4 linked regions of the Homo sapiens genome follow. The protein of the gene in region 1 interacts with the protein of each later gene in a biochemical or structural test. Each region holds a gene or a part of one and is shown in the gene's direction. Other genes may lie near its edges.

What was found. The genes of interacting proteins can lie anywhere in the genome.
Region 2: the proteins of CYTIP (region 1) and APBA1 interact in a test that uses a peptide from one of them, tested with the Homo sapiens proteins (one large-scale study listed by IntAct).
Region 3: the proteins of CYTIP (region 1) and ASIC3 interact in a test that uses a peptide from one of them, tested with the Homo sapiens proteins (one large-scale study listed by IntAct).
Region 4: the proteins of CYTIP (region 1) and PTPN3 interact in a test that uses a peptide from one of them, tested with the Homo sapiens proteins (one large-scale study listed by IntAct).

The regions. Positions count from the first base shown.
Region 1 is NC_000002.12:157,429,721-157,434,640, reverse strand, and holds part of CYTIP (cytohesin-interacting protein), read left to right. Parts: intron 1-216; coding exon 217-271; intron 272-3,678; coding exon 3,679-3,781; intron 3,782-3,988; coding exon 3,989-4,082; intron 4,083-4,920. UniProt on the Homo sapiens protein: By its binding to cytohesin-1 (CYTH1), it modifies activation of ARFs by CYTH1 and its precise function may be to sequester CYTH1 in the cytoplasm.
Region 2 is NC_000009.12:69,448,872-69,453,081, reverse strand, and holds part of APBA1 (amyloid-beta A4 precursor protein-binding family A member 1), read left to right. Parts: intron 1-780; coding exon 781-960; intron 961-3,285; coding exon 3,286-3,498; intron 3,499-4,210. UniProt on the Homo sapiens protein: Putative function in synaptic vesicle exocytosis by binding to Munc18-1, an essential component of the synaptic vesicle exocytotic machinery. May modulate processing of the amyloid-beta precursor protein (APP) and hence formation of APP-beta.
Region 3 is NC_000007.14:151,046,398-151,051,330, forward strand, and holds the start of ASIC3 (acid-sensing ion channel 3), read left to right. Parts: upstream 1-2,133; 5' UTR 2,134-2,488; coding exon 2,489-3,022; intron 3,023-3,708; coding exon 3,709-3,859; intron 3,860-4,083; coding exon 4,084-4,211; intron 4,212-4,360; coding exon 4,361-4,556; intron 4,557-4,641; coding exon 4,642-4,698; intron 4,699-4,774; coding exon 4,775-4,922; intron 4,923-4,933. UniProt on the Homo sapiens protein: Forms pH-gated heterotrimeric sodium channels that act as postsynaptic excitatory receptors in the nervous system. Upon extracellular acidification, these channels generate a biphasic current with a fast inactivating and a slow sustained phase.
Region 4 is NC_000009.12:109,488,308-109,492,517, reverse strand, and holds part of PTPN3 (tyrosine-protein phosphatase non-receptor type 3), read left to right. Parts: intron 1-4,210.

The DNA.
Region 1 (4,920 bases):
AGACTGTTTTTTCCTCTCTCTTCCTCTCTCTCTCTCTCTCTCTCTACGCACACACACAGACGCACACACACAGACACACACACAGAATCTTACATACTACAATTTACATAAATGTCAGTTATTTTTAATTGTGACAGTTATTTTTAATGATAGATCTGTGCCAAATGTGATACTTTAATTTTCATGCAGTTTCTTTTTTAAACATTTTTATTACAGAAAGCTTGTTACTGTGGAGAAGCAGGATAATGAAACATTTGGATTTGAAATTCAGGTGGGCAATTTTCACATTTTCTAGACTTCCAAGGAAGAAAGTGGCACCGGTAGTGTCATGTTATGTGCAAAGAAAAAATGAAGTTAGGATTAGAGAATGATGGAGCCTATGACTTTTATTCAGTGTGTGGCTGTTTGGGGGTAGTTTTTCAGTGTGTTGAGTACTATTAAGGAAAGAAAACATTGAAGATGATAACAAAACCTCTGCGATATGCTCAGCAGTTTGTGCTTAGTTGCTTCAGTCTTCCCTTAAGTCCCAGACTGATCAGCTAGGTTGGTATCAGCTAGGTCTTAGATAAGAGAGTGAAATACATTTTACAGATGTGTACTTGATATATTTGCATGTGTTTTGTATAATCATATTGTTATACTGTGTATCAGATTTTAAGTATTTACTTTGGCATTCAAGAGACACTCGAAAGACTATACATCTGTGTATATAGAATGCATATATTCATGGATAGCTCCTGGTATGTTTTGCAACTAGAGTTCATATTGTACATAATGAGCAATTTGTAGCTTTTTTTCCTAATGACAATGCTTTATAATTGTTATTTGAAACACTTGAGAACATTTGGCTCTACTTGCAGATTGCCTCATGCTGTAGGAAATTTTTAAGTCTTTATAAGTTTCAGCATAATTGCCTAAGAATTTCATTGCTTATTAGCTGTCTGCTTTTTCATGAGCACATTTGTAAAATGGGTGAGGTAGGTCAAATGAAGTCTAACCCAATTAAGTGCAACAGTAGTAGCTTAAGCATTTCTGTTTTTTTTTTCCATAGTACGTTTGCATGTCTTTTGGATGTGTTTTGCATAATCATATTCTTACACTCTATATCAGATTTTAGATCTTAGCTTTACTGCTGCTTTCAGAAAACTCTGGTGTGATATCAGCCCCACAATTGGAAAGTCAGTGTTTATTTTAAGATTAGGAACAGGAAACTGCTAAGAAAAACATGTTTTATGAGTAAAGAAACAAAATGGAACTTTAGCTGCAATGAAGACAGAGAAGGCACTTTGAAAAGAGGATCACTTCTACTTTCCTAACTCCTGTACTTTTAAATTTGGAGGAATCTGTAATTCACCACAGTAACTGGTGAAATCTATAGGTTTTAGAAGCATAGTGCTCCCTCTTACTCCCCGGTCATATGAACTACTCCCTATTCTGTTGTAGAGACACTGCTTTTTGTCACTGCTTCTTTTTAAAGGAAAATTATCCTCAAGGATGTGCAGCAGTGGCTACTGAAAACTGGATAAACGACTACTCACCTTTCTTTATTTTTCTTATACTGCCATAATAATGTCACTACTTTCTTAAGTTTTTCTCCCATACCATAAACACTTATTCTCCGTGGAGCAAGAGTCAAAACTATGTCAGGCCACAACACCACTGAACTTTTGTAGATCAACATGAACTAATGGCACCTCTAAATGGCAGCATGTAGGTGTTATCTCAGTGATGCAGGAACCCACACTCCTGTAAATTCCCTCTGGTATATGCTCTCCATTGTCAAATACACACCATAATCTATTCCCTAGTACTCATCAGATTTGCAGCAGTTAACAAATAGGAGACATGCTTCTGGGAACTTTTTGAAAATCAGATAGAACCTCATGTACCCATATTGTGCATGCAGTGTGAGTACATGTTTGGGATGTGGCCTACTAGAGGAATGACACTTTGGAAGAGACCAGATCCATGGTTCTCCATGGGAGCTAGTTTTATGCTGCTTATCAGAATCGTGCAGCCCAATAGGAATGCAGACTTTGGACTCATGCACACCTGAATTCATATCCTCCTAATGCCTTATGGGGTCCTTAGGAGTTTTAAATGAAATAATACATGCAATGTACCTAGTGATGTGCCTTACCAATAGAAGATCCACAAATGACAGGTGTTAGAATGAATGTCACTGGGCATGAGAAAGGACAATGAGATCTTTGTGTCTCTAAGAAATGCAGGTGATCATTGTGTCACTGATCCCTTAATGGGAGCTAGAAGACTGGGTAAGAGAAAAAAGCATCCAATTAATACTTTCTGTAGCTTTGGGGTTTCTGTTTTTTTCTATTTCTAACTACCATATTTTACACCCAATGTGAACATATATGGAGGTGCCAGCTACATAAATCAACATGTTTCTACTGCACTGTACTTACTTTGATCTCTGGGAATGGAGGGTAGAGTCTCACTGCTAATGAGAATTGTTAGAACAGTGGTTTCCCAAAGGAGTGTCAGTTGTATATTTTATTCATGTACCACATGAACTAGATCAGTCTTTCATCTCCAGAAGGGTCTAGGCTATACTGAGAAGACCCCTGGCAGGAAAGCTGTCAATGAAGTTTCTGACATAGATGGGAACATAGTGCATGATCTTTTAAAGTCCCTTCTACCTTTAAGATATGGGGATTCTAAGTGCCTTATAGATTAGATAGAAGTCCTTTAGAGGTGAACAGACCCAAGTTTCTAGAAGTTGCTTGCATGTGGCTGACTTGTGATGCCTCAGGGATTATTGAATAAGAAAGAATGAACATCAGACATCAATTTTTTCACAAGGAAGTACTACTTTAATGTAGCTTAATTTTAGGAATCAGATGTTTAAAAGACGTACTCTACTCAGAACACTGATTTTGCTTCTAAGTGGAACTAGACTTCATAATTTAAATGTGTGAAAAAAAGAAAATTATATTTGTTATAGGTCATTGGGACACTATATCTAGCAAACATTTATTCAGTGTTTTGGTATAATTAAAAATAAAAAAACCCACCACCACCAAACTACTTGTGCCTAATTGAGGCAAGAGTTGAAGCTTAACTTTTTCTAATTTAGTTGGGTGACTAATGAACCGGTGAGGATTCAGGACAGGCATACCAGAGGGTGCTCAGAAATGAAGGTAATTGAGTCAATTATAGTACTTTTGAATAAATGCAGGGCAGATTGTCATTATGTGCAGAACTCTGATTTAAAATAATCATTGTTGGCATGTCTCCTTGCTGCATGTGTACAATTTCATACTCCTATAATGAGTGTTTTAGCTTGGGAGAACCACTTAGGGATTTTTCTCATTGCACTTGGCCATCGTTGTTTTATCCCATTGGGAAATGAGAAACTCAATTTTTAAAAATAAATCGTGATAGCATCAGGTGATATCTTGGGCTTGAAAATATAAAATCTTGAGCCACTCTCATTTCACTTTCTTTCTCATGACAGATGTCTTTATGAATGGAGTTGGCTACAGATTGTCTGGTAGAATTGCAAAATTGATACCTTGATTTAGTTTATAGTGGAAATCCTTTGTCCTTTGAACTTACCTATTATACTGCTTAATGATAATTGACATCATTTTAAATTTTGGCAAATAGATGTTGAGGTTGTTAAATAGTAACTATATATCATCTTAATTTTTACAGTCTTACAGGCCCCAGAATCAGAATGCCTGCTCCTCGGAAATGTTCACTTTGATATGCAAAATACAGGAGGACAGCCCAGCTCACTGTGCTGGCCTGCAAGCTGGTAACTTAAATTTTTGCTCATGTTAGGAATCATTTAAATGGAAAGAAAATAAAATGTTTTGAGAGTGAAGGTCAGGATGTATTTGTTGCTTTGAGTTTTCTTGGCTCCTTTATGTTTTTAAGACTTGGAGCTGCTTGTTTCATTTGCATGTCAGGAGGGATTATTTAACTAACCAACATAACACTCATTTTTCTTGGCATCTCCCAGGTGATGTCCTTGCAAATATCAATGGTGTGAGCACAGAAGGTTTTACCTACAAACAAGTCGTTGACCTGATCAGATCGTCCGGAAACCTGCTAACGTAACTATCTGTCTAGTTCCCGTGGGGCTTCAAAATGTTATGTTTTCTCATAAAGCCTGATGAGTGAATAAATAGGCCTTTTGTTCAGCATTACAAGACGGAGTGAGGCAGTGCACCGGAGCTTTAGAGTGGGGTACAAACATTATCAGTTCCTTTTGTTTCTCAAGATTCCTCACACTTGAACATACTGTCAACATCTGAAGTCAGAGGACATCAATAGCCCAAACGTCTGTGTGGGAAGGATGGCCTTTACAAATGTATTTTTTTAATGTCAAATTCAATTAAACTGGCACACATTCTCTTTAAACTGGGAAGAACTGATCCAATTTTCATGGTTGATATAATCCTGTAGCTAAAACAAATCAAAGGTCAGAAGGGCTGAGTTTTTCCTCTTATGTGACAAGCCACCTGTTTTTCTCTTCTAGTGTTCCATTTGGAAGGAAGAATAGTCTGTTCAACCCTCCCCACCCTGAAACACACATACTCACACCACATGTTCCAAATGTTCCAAACTTCTTTTTTTTTTTTTTTTTTTTGAGACGGAGTCTCGCTCTGTCGCCCTGGATGGAGTGCAGTGGCGCGATCTTGGCTCACTGCAAGCTCTGCCTCCCAGGTTCACGCCATTCTCCTGCCTCAGCCTCCCTAGTAGCTGGGACTACAGGCGCCCACCACCATGCCCGGCTAATTTTTTGTATTTTTAGTAGAGACGGGGTTTCATCGTGTTAGCCAGGATGGTCTCAATCTCCTGACCTCATGATCCACCCGCCTCCGCCTCCCAAAGTGCTGGGATTACAGGCATGAGCCACCGCCCCTGGCCCCAAACTTCTTAATAGAACAC
Region 2 (4,210 bases), on another chromosome or scaffold:
AACCATTCTGAAAGGCATAATGAGATAGTGAGATGCTTATGCCTACTTGATTAAGCTTGGATGTAGGAGAACGCAGTGTGCAGTGGGATATCATAAACTTTCCAGTTGACATTTCAAATTGAGGGCCAAATAATATGTATGTATCTACAAGCACATGCATAATCACCATGCATGACAGCACACGTGCAGGTTGATAGGGATGTGATTTATCGGCAACACAGATATCACAGCAGCGCTGATGTTGATTTTCCAAAGTCATGAAGTTTCCTCCTGGTGAAGTACTGAATGAAGCAAAATAACATCATCTCTCAATTCAGACGGTATTATTCTTGAAATGTTCGATGTGTATTAGAGCCATACAAAGTCTTTGTGTTTATGTATAAATTGGAGTTGAATCCTGGACTCAGGTAACTGTAAACAAGTATTGCATGCACATGAATGTCCAGAGGGATCTGTGAAGATGGTGCAGGGTATAGAATGACTCATCACTGTATCGAGCTGTTTTTTGCATGGCAGGATATTCAGCATCTCTGACTCCTGTCTGCTGAATGCCGGTAGCTCCCTTATGATCATTGTCATAATCAAAAACATCCCCAGTCTTTCTGAAAATTGCCCCTGGTGGGCACTGGTAGCCCCACGTAGAACCACTGGCCCAGCAGGCGTGATGTCTAGGGTTTCCTCAGACTCCAGGAGGGCCATTGTTCAGGTGGGAAGTGCGCCAGGCCGCTCACCAGGTGCACTGCCCTGCTGACCATCTTTCCTCTCTGGCTGCTGTTCCAGGCTCAGCTGATTGCACAGTCCATCGGACAGGCATTTAGCGTGGCATACCAGGAATTCCTCAGGGCCAATGGGATTAACCCCGAAGATCTCAGCCAGAAGGAGTATAGTGACCTGCTCAATACCCAGGACATGTACAACGATGACCTGATCCACTTCTCCAAGTCGGAAAACTGTAAAGATGTGGGTACTTACCTGAAGCTGTTCTCCAGGCTGGGTCAGCTGGGCAGGGGCTTGGAAAGTGGGGCACCCTGCCGCGGAAGTGAAGGGAGATCAATGGTGAGGAGTGCCGTATTGGCAGGACATCATGAAGTCGTTCACCCCCATCTCTCGCTCCCTGCTGTGGGGCCCTGTCATGAAATGCTATTGTGGACAGGTGTAAACAGAGAGGCAGCACATCCTCTGCTCCTGGTCATCCTGAGCTAAGTTTTGGGTGGGTCCCAGAGGCAGATAGGACCTGAACTCTGCTTGTACAAACACTGCAATCTAGGTAAGGGCACTGAAAAAGTTAAATGATGGTGCCAGGTACAGGCACTAATCAAAACCAACTACACTTGGACAAACAGAGAAGATCTCAAGTTTCAGACAAGAGGTGCTGTGCTTCTCTGGGGATGGCCTGTGGCTTCAAACTGAGCTATTCAGGAATGCCTGTAGGAAGATGAGGCTATCCAAGCTGGTCTGGCGATCTGGGGATTGTAGGGGCAAGCCGAGGGTGGGGTCTATGGAATGGTTGGAAGCCTGGAGATCAGAAAGCTCCACATTTGTCTAGGGAATGAGGAAATACGGTTTGGCTAGAGCAGGAGGTAGGCACAGGAAAGGAGATAGATGGGCCTGAGATCTGGGTCAGAACTGGAGGGCCTGCAAGTCCAGCTGAGGGGTTTGGACTTGATCCCATAGGTAAAAAGAACTTTTAATGAGAAAGTGATCATTTGATCCACTGGGGTCTGTCAGGTGTCTTAGGTCAGATTCCCCAGAAGCAGAGCCTGAGGCAGGGATTCTTGTCACAGAGGTTTGTTGGGAGAGTGCCTCAGAACAGAAGGGATGTGGGAAGCTTGGTGGTGGGACACCAAGTAAGGGTGTGGTCCCTTGGACATGAGCTTCCTTCTGTCCAGAGGGAAGCTCCATGGCACATATTGCAGGACAGATTTGTCTCACCTTGGAGCGAGGGAGCTGGCAAGCCTTTGTACCCCATGCCGGTTATTGGCCAAGGCTGGACAGGGGGTATATGAATTTACTAGGGCTGTTGTCACAAAGTACCATGGACTGGGTGACTTCAACAACACAAACCTATTGTCTCACAGACCTTGTGGCCAGAAGTCCAAAAGCAAGGTGTTGTTAGCATTGGTTCCTTCTGAGAGCCGTGAGAGAAGAATCTGTTCCAAGCCTTTCTCTGGCTTGTAGATGGCTGTCTTCATGCTGTGTCTTCACATCAGCCTTTCTCCATGCATGTCCCTATGTCCAAATTTCCTCTTTTTTTTTTTGATACCCATGACAGACAACCATTCCTCTTCTTAAATAAGGACATGAGTAATATTGGATTAGAGTCCATATTAATCACCTCATTTAAAATTGGTTACCTCTGCTAAGACCTTATCTCCAAATAAAGTCACAATCTAAGTCAAAGGCACTGGGGGTTGGTAATTCAACATACAAATTTTGGGGGGACACAATTCAACCTTAACAGAATGTGTCTCCCTTTCAGCTAAGGACAGTTCTCCAGGGAAGGGGCTGACTGTAAGCTTCAGCAGCTGGGGGAAGCAGACACCAACCTGTGAAGGGGACTTTGTCAAGCCCCCCAAAAATACACATACACACTCTGTTGGGTGCTTCCAAGAGGTGTGGTACCTTTTAGTGGCATATCTGCAGGCCTCCCCAGAGTGCAAGTATCCAACATCAACCCCTGTCTTCTCTGCCCTGCCAGTGAAGGTTGTGAAAAGTCTGTGTATCCAGGATATGCACTTCCTGTGTGCACACCCAGCCTTTTGGTTGTGATAACTTCAGCATCACTTTTTCTTTTTTCTCAACTTTTTCCTTGCAGAGAAGTGTTTCTGTGTGTTTATTTATTTTTAACTCAAGAAAATTAAATGTCGGAGCGAATTGGGGAAGCACTGTGGGAGGGGGAACCTGCGCATGGAATTTGAAAAGCTATTTCTAGAAACCATAACACACCACCCACCCACAGAGCCTCATCCCCTGCCACTGAGGACAGGACTGAAGAAATTAAAAAAAAAAAAAAAAAAAAAAAAAACTGGTGGTCCTCATGGTTGTGTGCTGAGGCAAGTTTGCTTATGTGAAACGAGTGAATTACAAAAGAGTGTAGACCTGTGTGAATTCATTTCTTAAAAACTCCAAATATGCGGAATGCTGAGAAGACAGGAACTCATCTGGGTTGGTGTCCCCAGGGAAGTGTCTTTCTTTAGGCAAGACAGGAATGGGGGAGAGGCTTTCATTTCTACCTACCCCAGATGGTCACTGATGGAGGTTTTCTAAATGTTTTTCTCCTTCCAGGTTTTCATAGAGAAGCAGAAAGGAGAAATCCTAGGTGTGGTGATTGTGGAGTCTGGCTGGGGATCCATCCTCCCCACCGTGATCATTGCCAACATGATGCATGGTGGCCCTGCGGAGAAATCTGGGAAGCTGAATATCGGTGACCAGATCATGTCCATTAATGGCACCAGCCTGGTGGGCCTGCCTCTGTCCACCTGCCAGAGCATTATTAAGGTACCTGAATATGGGAAAAATCAGTTGATGTGGTAAACCTCAAGTGATGTGAAGTGTGACCCCCATCCAGTCATTAATGTATATGAACATATTCAAAGTGTCAGGCACCAAGGAAGACACAAACACAAAAGGCGTGGACTTGCACTCAGGAAGCTTACCATCAAGTTACTGTTTACAGATTCTTCCCTGAAATCAATTTAGATTAGGGGAAGTGTATTTGGTTCACATGACACTACTTTCTGATAGCAGCATGTCCATCACAGCATCACTAGTCAATCACAGCATTCTCCCACTAAGCCCAGACTCAGCCTCAACAGAAATGGCCTCAGCTTGGGAATCCAGACAGTCACTTATAGTCAGCCAGATACACTTGGCATGATTTACCATCCCTGTCAAAAATGTCAGAAATGCTTCAAATCTGAGAGTGCTTTTTCCTTCCCAGTGGCCCTGACTATGATGCAGGTGAGTTTGTCCTCCCTCAGACCCCGGGTAAAGCAACTCACATGTGCTCATTGCCAGAAGGAGGAGGAAACTCTCTTCCAGTCCATGGAAGCTTTTTCATACCTGAGCATACTTCCTGCTCAACCTGAACTGATGCTTATAAAGCTAAGAAGAGCTACTTAAAGGAAAATTAAATGTGAATACTTGAGAAGAAATGAGATTTTCTTTAGACATGAAGCATTCATGTGGAGTTTTTTGAGCACATTGGGAC
Region 3 (4,933 bases), on another chromosome or scaffold:
GGCCCTGAGACTGTGGATGAGGGGGCTAGGCTCCAGCTGGCTTCTGAGGGGCCTGGAAAGGCACACAAGTAGGTCCTTGGCTGAACTGGTGCCCCAGCAGGACCTCGTGTCCCTGCACTGCTGCAGATGCATCAGCCCTCCCCATGTTGGTGCCGCTGTCACTTCCTACTGGGATCCTTCCCCTATCCAGCCACATCCAGGCTGTGGGACTACACGGTGCCCTGTTCCCCTGGGCAGGAGAAGAGGTGGTACCTGCAATGCACCTTCACAGCCAGGCAAGCATTCTGGATTTACCCTGTGTAAAGAAGGGTGGTACCCTCTTTCAGGGGTGTGATACAGTGCATTGATGGAGCAGCTGGTGCTGCTGGGAGGCCAGCCTGGAAGAGGCAGCAGTGGCTCAAGTTTGCGTGCAGGAGCCAGAGTGGGACCCACGGGCTCTTGTGGGTGTGGTTTAGAACTAGATGGTGCTTTGGGGACAAGCCATCCAAAAACCCCAGGCCCACATCCACCCTGATTTGATATCCCACTTCCTGACAGATCAGAGGCTGTGTCTTTAAGCAGTGGAGGTCCAGGAGCAGAGCCTGGGGCTGGTTCACAGCTAAACCCCTCCTTAGGGCAGCCCAGAGTAGGGCCTCAGCTGGCAAGTCCACAAGCCCTGCTGGGGCCCTGCTTGTTGGCCTGACCCCTCCCTCACCAGGCAGCCAGCCAAGGTGGTTCCTGCTTCACCCACTCAGTCATCAGCCTCAGGCTGCCCAAAATGCCTCTGACACCAGATTTATATCTTCTGGGCGGCTTCTTTAAATCCAGCCCTTCACCCGCCCCCTAGAGAAGCAGTGAAACCCCTTGGCTAGTCCAGCTGGAAGAGCTAGACCGCAGGAGCCGCGCCGTCTTCCTAACCTCGCCTCGGCCTTCGCTCCACAGTGGAGAGTGGGAGCCTAGCTGTGCTTGATGCTGAATGCCTGTTTTGAGAGTGTGAGTGGGATCATCTACAGTAAATACTTGCAAAGCATGGCACTGTGGCTCTGGGGAGCTGGTACGCCTGTGCTGTAACCATGGTACTCAGTCCTTCCAAAGTGTTTATTAATCAAGCACCTGTCATGTGCCATTGAGCCCACGATGGGGAATGAGGACAGTCCCTGCCCCCATGAAGCTTGTGTCCTGTTGGGAGGACAGACAGGTGGCCCAGCAGTTGCAGCATGGTGTGTGCACACGTTTGGCTGGTGGAACCATGTTTCTACCACTCATGGTCAAAAAAAGCCCACCAAAGTCCTGGGAGTTCACATCTGTGTGATGATACGGCAACATTGTTTGTAATGGAAAGACTGGACACCCCCAGTGCCCATCAGTGGGGGAGTCATTAAATAAACTATGGTATGTGCACATAATGGGTGGTATGCAGCCCTTTGGAAAAATGTAGGTTTTCCAGGTCCTGGATATAGCAGCGTAAGATGGGAAATCACAGAATACCCATGTTGTGCCTGAGATGGCAGGTGGGGTACCCGTGGTACCCGGGAGGGTGGCAGGTGGGGCACCCATGTTCTACCTGGGGTGGCAGGTGAGCCCATAACCATTGTAGAGGCCAACATCCTCAGAGGCCTGAGTGTGGGGAGGTAGGCTTTGACTCCCTAGGGAGAGAGGGACACTTAGGAAACAGACGGGCCCTGGAAGTGGGACATGAAGAGTGCCCTGGCCATCCAGTGTAGGCTGAGATGCTAGGGGCACAGAAAGAAGAGATCTGCTGATGCCAGCCTTCCAACCATTTCCCAGCTTGGCCAAGAGCCAGCTCTGGTATTCGTGAAGGAACAGATCCTGGGTGAAGCTAGAGGGAAGGCCGCAGAGGCAAAAGGAGAGAGGAGCTAGGCCAGGGGTCAGCGACTGACCCTCGCGGCCAGTGTACAGGGGTTGCAACTGGGAGCCTAGGGGGCCCCAAGGCATCTCCAGGCCCAATCTACCTCTGGGCTTTTCTCAAGCTCTCCCTAGGATTACTGCGGTTTCCTCCTGGCGCCTCTCGTCTTGGACAGCCATGCCCCCCTCCATGCTGCACTAATGGCTCAGCCTGGGGCCCTAGGGACCTCTCCTACCCCCCAGACTGCTCTGTCGGCCCCCTTTCCCCCCTACTGCTGAAACCCAATCCTCTGCAGCAGCGCCGGCTCAGCACCGCCGGCTCAGCACCGCTCCGCAGCCCCTGCCTGCCACGGTCAGCTACGTCCCACCTGGTCTGCTGCGGAGTCCCCAGCCCAGTGCCTAGCCCAGTGGAGCCACCGCCTGTTCCTCGGGAAGGAACAGTGGGACCTGACCGGCCAGATCACCTCCTCCAATCCTGCCAGGCTAGTGCCTCCCTGCCTTCCAACCTTGGCTGTCTCCCACCCTCTCTTCTCCTCTCCTTGCCTGGCCTCCTGAATCCTATCTTAGCCTCCTTAGCCCCCTGACTGACTCTCTCTCGCTTCTTCCAAGCCTCTGTAGCTGGTTCCGCTCCTGGGTTCTGGCCATGAAGCCCACCTCAGGCCCAGAGGAGGCCCGGCGGCCAGCCTCGGACATCCGCGTGTTCGCCAGCAACTGCTCGATGCACGGGCTGGGCCACGTCTTCGGGCCAGGCAGCCTGAGCCTGCGCCGGGGGATGTGGGCAGCGGCCGTGGTCCTGTCAGTGGCCACCTTCCTCTACCAGGTGGCTGAGAGGGTGCGCTACTACAGGGAGTTCCACCACCAGACTGCCCTGGATGAGCGAGAAAGCCACCGGCTCATCTTCCCGGCTGTCACCCTGTGCAACATCAACCCACTGCGCCGCTCGCGCCTAACGCCCAACGACCTGCACTGGGCTGGGTCTGCGCTGCTGGGCCTGGATCCCGCAGAGCACGCCGCCTTCCTGCGCGCCCTGGGCCGGCCCCCTGCACCGCCCGGCTTCATGCCCAGTCCCACCTTTGACATGGCGCAACTCTATGCCCGTGCTGGGCACTCCCTGGATGACATGCTGCTGGACTGTCGCTTCCGTGGCCAACCTTGTGGGCCTGAGAACTTCACCACGGTGAGCTGACCTCCCTACCTATCCTGCCAGGGACCCAGAGAGCCGACCAGTCCCTGCCCAGCACCCACAATTCCCTAGCCAGCACAGGCTCCCCCAAAGCCAGGGGACCTCTTCCTTCCTACCAGCCATGGACTCCCCACCCCCCAGTGCCACTCCGTGCAGCCCAGGAAGCTGTCCTCCTTGGGGCTTTCTCTGTCTCCCAGCCCGAGGGGAGCATGTGAGGCCACACTGACCCCGGCTGGCCCTAGGCCTGAGGTCTGGCCCAGGGAGGCCCTGCTCCTGGGGCTGGGGGTCCTCCATGGTGGGACCATTCTGGGGCAGAAGACCCCTATCTCTGCCAGGAGGTGGGGGGGGCTTGCTTTCCCTCTGCCTTTTCAACATACTGCCAGCCCCGGAGGACAGCCACAGGGGCCCATTTCCTTTTCCTGCAGTTCCCAGAGAAACACAGAAAAACCTGTAGGCTGTGCCCTGGGCTTTGGTGGGGATTGGCGGGGTGGAGGAGCTGAGTTGATGGGCTCCCAAGAGCGTCCTGCAACATGTGCCCACTGGAGCGTGGGGCTGGGGGCATTGAGATGCGGGCTTCAGTATTCAAAGAAGAGACGCAAACATACCATGAGGTGGGGAGAGGTCCCATGACCATGTGCCTGCCTGGGGGAGATGGCCATCACCCTGTCTGCCCGCCCCAGATCTTCACCCGGATGGGAAAGTGCTACACATTTAACTCTGGCGCTGATGGGGCAGAGCTGCTCACCACTACTAGGGGTGGCATGGGCAATGGGCTGGACATCATGCTGGACGTGCAGCAGGAGGAATATCTACCTGTGTGGAGGGACAATGGTAGGGAGCACACAAATGAGGCTGGGGGAGGGCACGGATGGAGTGCAAAAGGCTAGGGGAAGGAGAGGAGGAGAGGAGGTGTCAGGGTGTTCCCCCAGAACCTGTGAAAGGGGCTGGGCTGGCTCATCCCAGTCCTGGGGAGAGGGGCTGCAGTGAGAGGTCTTGTCTGGTTGGGCAGGAGACCTGACCACACAGGTCAGGCCTCACAGGTCCCTCCCCGACAGAGGAGACCCCGTTTGAGGTGGGGATCCGAGTGCAGATCCACAGCCAGGAGGAGCCGCCCATCATCGATCAGCTGGGCTTGGGGGTGTCCCCGGGCTACCAGACCTTTGTTTCTTGCCAGCAGCAGCAGGTACCCTTCCGTGTGCCTCCACACCTACTACTTCAAGCCCACACCACCTCAGACCCTAAACCCTCAGCTCCTCAGACCTGTCTAGGGGCCTCTCCCCAGCTGGCCTCTCACGCTCTCCGGGAAGCCTCCTTAACCCTGTCCCCCCACAGCTGAGCTTCCTGCCACCGCCCTGGGGCGATTGCAGTTCAGCATCTCTGAACCCCAACTATGAGCCAGAGCCCTCTGATCCCCTAGGCTCCCCCAGCCCCAGCCCCAGCCCTCCCTATACCCTTATGGGGTGTCGCCTGGCCTGCGAAACCCGCTACGTGGCTCGGAAGTGCGGCTGCCGAATGGTGTACATGCCAGGTGAGGGGCTGGGGTTTTCGTCCCATGGCGGGCAGGGCCCAGGGAGCTGAGGCTGCTTCTAAAGCCATCTCCCCGGTACCCGCAGGCGACGTGCCAGTGTGCAGCCCCCAGCAGTACAAGAACTGTGCCCACCCGGCCATAGGTAAGGGCGAGCCTCCCCCACCTCCCGTCCGCCCCGCTCCGCCCGCGGGCGTCTGACGCGGCCCGGTGGCCCGCAGATGCCATGCTTCGCAAGGACTCGTGCGCCTGCCCCAACCCGTGCGCCAGCACGCGCTACGCCAAGGAGCTCTCCATGGTGCGGATCCCGAGCCGCGCCGCCGCGCGCTTCCTGGCCCGGAAGCTCAACCGCAGCGAGGCCTACATCGCGTGAGCTGCGC
Region 4 (4,210 bases), on another chromosome or scaffold:
TCCCTCACTTTGTGGTCAGACCCCTGACCCTCCAGACAAGTGCTTTGATCTGTGTTCAGTGCTGAGAGTCGCTGTGGGTGAGTGAAGGTCCCTCCTCAGCCAGGACCACAGGTCCCGGTTCTCAGGACTGAAGGGATATTCCAAGAGGGAGCATCCAGGACTGTGCAGGGGCCATGGCTGCCTGAATGCTGTGCTGATGAGGGTCCCCTGGCGTAGGAGTGGGGTTGGAGACCTGGCCCATGCATGTCACCTCCCTCAGCCACATCAGCTCAAGGGCTAGCCCAGAGGTTCTCGGTGAGGGAGGCAGCAACCAGCTCCATCAGCTGTTTTTTGACCGCCAGCCACCATTGGGCCTGGGGAGGGGAGGTTGGCCTCTGAGCTCAGTCTTCCCCACTGGCTCCCCCGAGTCCCCTCCCCTGCTCTGGTTATCAAATGCATTCATGGTTCTTGTAGAAAATAAAGTGTCAGGGAACACAAGAAAAATTATGCATGATGCTTCTCTGAAAGCAGCTGGTCCACTGTCAGCACTGCCATGATCTGCACATGCCCTCTCCTGCTTCCAGTGGATTCTCTACTCCACAGACGGGGGAGTCTTCCATACACTCCTATTTTTCTCAAAATGAAGACAAAGCTGATCTCTCAGCATCTCCTGCAGGCCCTATGTTCATGCTCTTTGAGCCCTCACCTCACCGTGCTCCTTCCTGCTGCAGGGACTGCAAGAGCCTGGGACCTTCTCCCCCTCCCCACTGATTACTTCATCCTGTGGGTCTCAGCTCCATGATTGCAGAGCCTTTGCTCACCTTCCTGACTTGAGTTAAATTGTTGCTATAAATGTTCATGCCACCAGATCTCTCTCCATTATAGCACTTTTCCTAGTGGCAATTTTGCAGTTAATTAATGTAATTATTTGTATTAGTACCTGTCTCCCGGCTACACTGTAAGCTGTGTGAAGGCAGGGTCTCTTTTTTAAAAAAACTTTTTCTAAGTTTTATTTTTTTTTCTTTTAATGTTTTATTTTGATACAATTCAGACCCATAGGAAGGTTGTAAGAATAAATCAAAGAAGTCCCATAAATTCTTCACCCAGATTCCCCAAACATTACCATTTTATTCTTTTTATTTTATCCCTGTGTACATATATATCTATCCTGAACCATTTGAGGATTATTTATCAATGCCTCCTTTCCCCCTACATATATTTCCTAAAAGCGATGATATTCCGTAACTACAATACAAATTTTAGAATCAATAAATTAATAGTGATACAACATTGTTTAATCTATAAACCTCAAGTTTTATATACTTTTTTTTTTTTTTTTGAGAGAGAGTGTCCCTCACTCTGCCACCCAGGCTGGAGTGCAGTGGTGTGATCTCAGTTCACTGCAACCTCCGCCTCCTGGATTCAAGCAATTATCCTGTCTCAGCCTCCCAAGTAGCTGGGATTCCAGGCGTGTGCCACCATGCCCGGCTAATGTTTGTATTTTTTGTGGTGACAGGGTTTCACCATGTTGGATGCTGGTCTCGAACTCCTGACCTCAAGTGATCTGCCTGTCTCAGCCTCCCAAAGTACTGGGATACAGGCCCGAGCCACTGCGCCCGGCCTAGATGTTAGGTTTTGCCAGTTGTCTTAGTGATGTCCTTTTTTATAGCAAAAAAAAAAAAACTCTTATAAATGGGTTGCGTACGGTTGTCATGTCTCGTTAGTTTCCTTTAAACTAAGACAGTTCCCCAATTGTTCTTGGTCCTTCAGGACCTTGACTTTTTTTGTTGTTGTTGTTCCAAGATGGAGTCTCGCTCTGTCGCCCAGGCTGGAGTGCAGTGGCTCAGTCTCAGCTCACTGCAGCATCCGACTCCTGGGTTCAAGCAATTCTCCTGCCTCAGCCTCCTGAGTAGCTGGGATTACAGGCATGTGCCACCACGCCCGGCTAATTTTTTGTATTTTTAGTAGAGACGGGATTTCTCCGTGTTGGTCAGGCTGGTCTCCAACTCCCGACCTCAGGTGATCCGCCCACCTCGGCCTCCCAAAGTGCTGGGATTACAGGCGTGAGCCACCATGCCCAGCCAGACCTTGACGTTTTTGGAAAGTACAAGCCAATTATTTTGTAGAATGCCCCTCACATTGAGTCTGTTTTAACTCACCATTTTGTCCCCAGTGCCAAGCACAGTCCCTGGACCATCAAATGCACTCAGTAAATATTTGTTGAATGAGGAGAGGGAGAGATGGAAGGAGGTGCAAGGGGAAAAGTCAGCAGGTTTTCTGCTTTCTTCCAGCCCCACGCCTTTCCCTGCTGAGTGATGTGGGGTTTTTTTTGTTTTGTTTTTGTTTTGTTTTTTTTGAGATGGAGTCTTGCTCTGTCACCCAGGCTAGAGTGCAGTGGCGCGATCTCGGCTCACTGCAACCTCTGCCTCCTGGGTTCAAGTGATTCTCCTGCCTCAACCTCCCAAGTAACTGAGATTACAGGTGTCCACGACCACGCCCAGCTAATTTTTTGTATTTTTAATAGAGATGAGGTTTTGCCATGTTGGCCAGGCTGGTCTAGAACTCCTGACCTCAAGTGATCCACCTACCTCGGCCTCCCAAAGTGCTGGGATTATAGGCATGAGCCACCCCACCCGGCCTGGATGTTGTTATTTAGTTGCAGTCATACTGTATACAGGTTTGAATCCTGCTATTTTTATAACAAAGCTTTCCCCAAAAAAGAGAGGCTTCCTGAGAAGATAGTGAGCCTGCTGTCCTTGCAGATATACAAGCAGAAGCCAGATGATGGTTTGGCAGGGATACTGGAGAGGCAAATGGAATGTTTGATGAGGGGTGAGACTCATCAGGCTGGGCGTCCCTGCTAATCATGGGTAGACTTCTCTAACTGCAGCACTGACTTCACAGGCCTAGGCCCCCAAGAACAGTGCAACTAGAATTTATCATCCCAACCAGAACAATTTGAGAATAAAAAGGGGTCCTATTAATAATTGCACATGACTGACGGGTCTAAGCCGGGACTGCCCTAGGTAAATCCGGACGTGTGGTCACGTCCGGATTTAAGAGTGACTTCGAGGTTGAGATCAGTGCAGGGTGAGCCAGCATGGAAAACCCTCTAGCACTAGGAATCTTCTACCTGGATAAAGACAAAACTAACCTCTGCATGGCCTGCAGGCCTGATGTTTGTGGCTTTGGTCCCCACACCTCTGTGGTCCCACCTCCAGTAGGATGCCACTCCCAGCTTTGTGCCTGCCACACCGGCCTTTTGTCAGCTCTCACCTCACTATGGTACCTGTCTGCCACAAGGACTGGCAGAGTCTGGAACGTCACTCACATACCCTGGCTGGATGGAGGAGCAGGGACAGAGTTTATGATAGATGGACAGGGAGATGAACAAGCCAGCTGTGCTTCCCACTGACCAATTTCTAATAGAATTTAAGAGCCAGGGTGTGTAAGCAAAGAAGGGCAGGAGGCGGGAGTCACCCTAGACCTTATCTTCTTTCCTCTAGTGCTCACACTTCCACCTCTTCTTCCTGCACCAACGCCCACATCCCTGTTCCAGCCCTAGTTCTGAGATGATGACTAAGTCACTGACCTTTGGCAAAGGCAGGGAAGCAGGTGGCATTGGGGACCCAGGCAGAAGAGGATGGGCATTGGATGGACAGTAGATGCAGACAGGGACTTGGATGCAGAGAAACCAGGCAGGAAACCAGCATCTAGGGATCCCAGTAACAAGGTCACTACAGGGCCATTTATCAGGAAGTCTAGATTTGTAATATCAAGTGACCAGACACTCGGTCAAGGGGTCAGGCTCTGGGATCCATACAGTCTGGTTCTTTAACTTATTTTCTGCCTAGAAGAAAATACAAACCTTGCCTTCCTGGATTACAAATTATTATAGGATGAAAATGTGAAGATAATGGAGCTATTTTCTGGGAAGCATCCCAGTCATGTGAACTTTAAGAACACTGTCCAGTGCAGTCGTGTTTTTATTACTCTAGGCATCAGCAGCTTTAATGGAAAAGCCAGTTAGTAAAGGAATGTTCCGGTTCCTAGAATGCAAGATACTAGTACTGCTGAATGTTGGAAAGATTTTCTGGTTAACTGTGTTATTAGATTTTACTGCTTAAAAATGTACTTTCAGCCTGGTGCGGTGGCTCATGCCTGTAATCCTAGCACTTTGGGAGGCAGAGGCGGGTGGATCACCTGAGGTCAGGAGTTCGAGACCAGACTG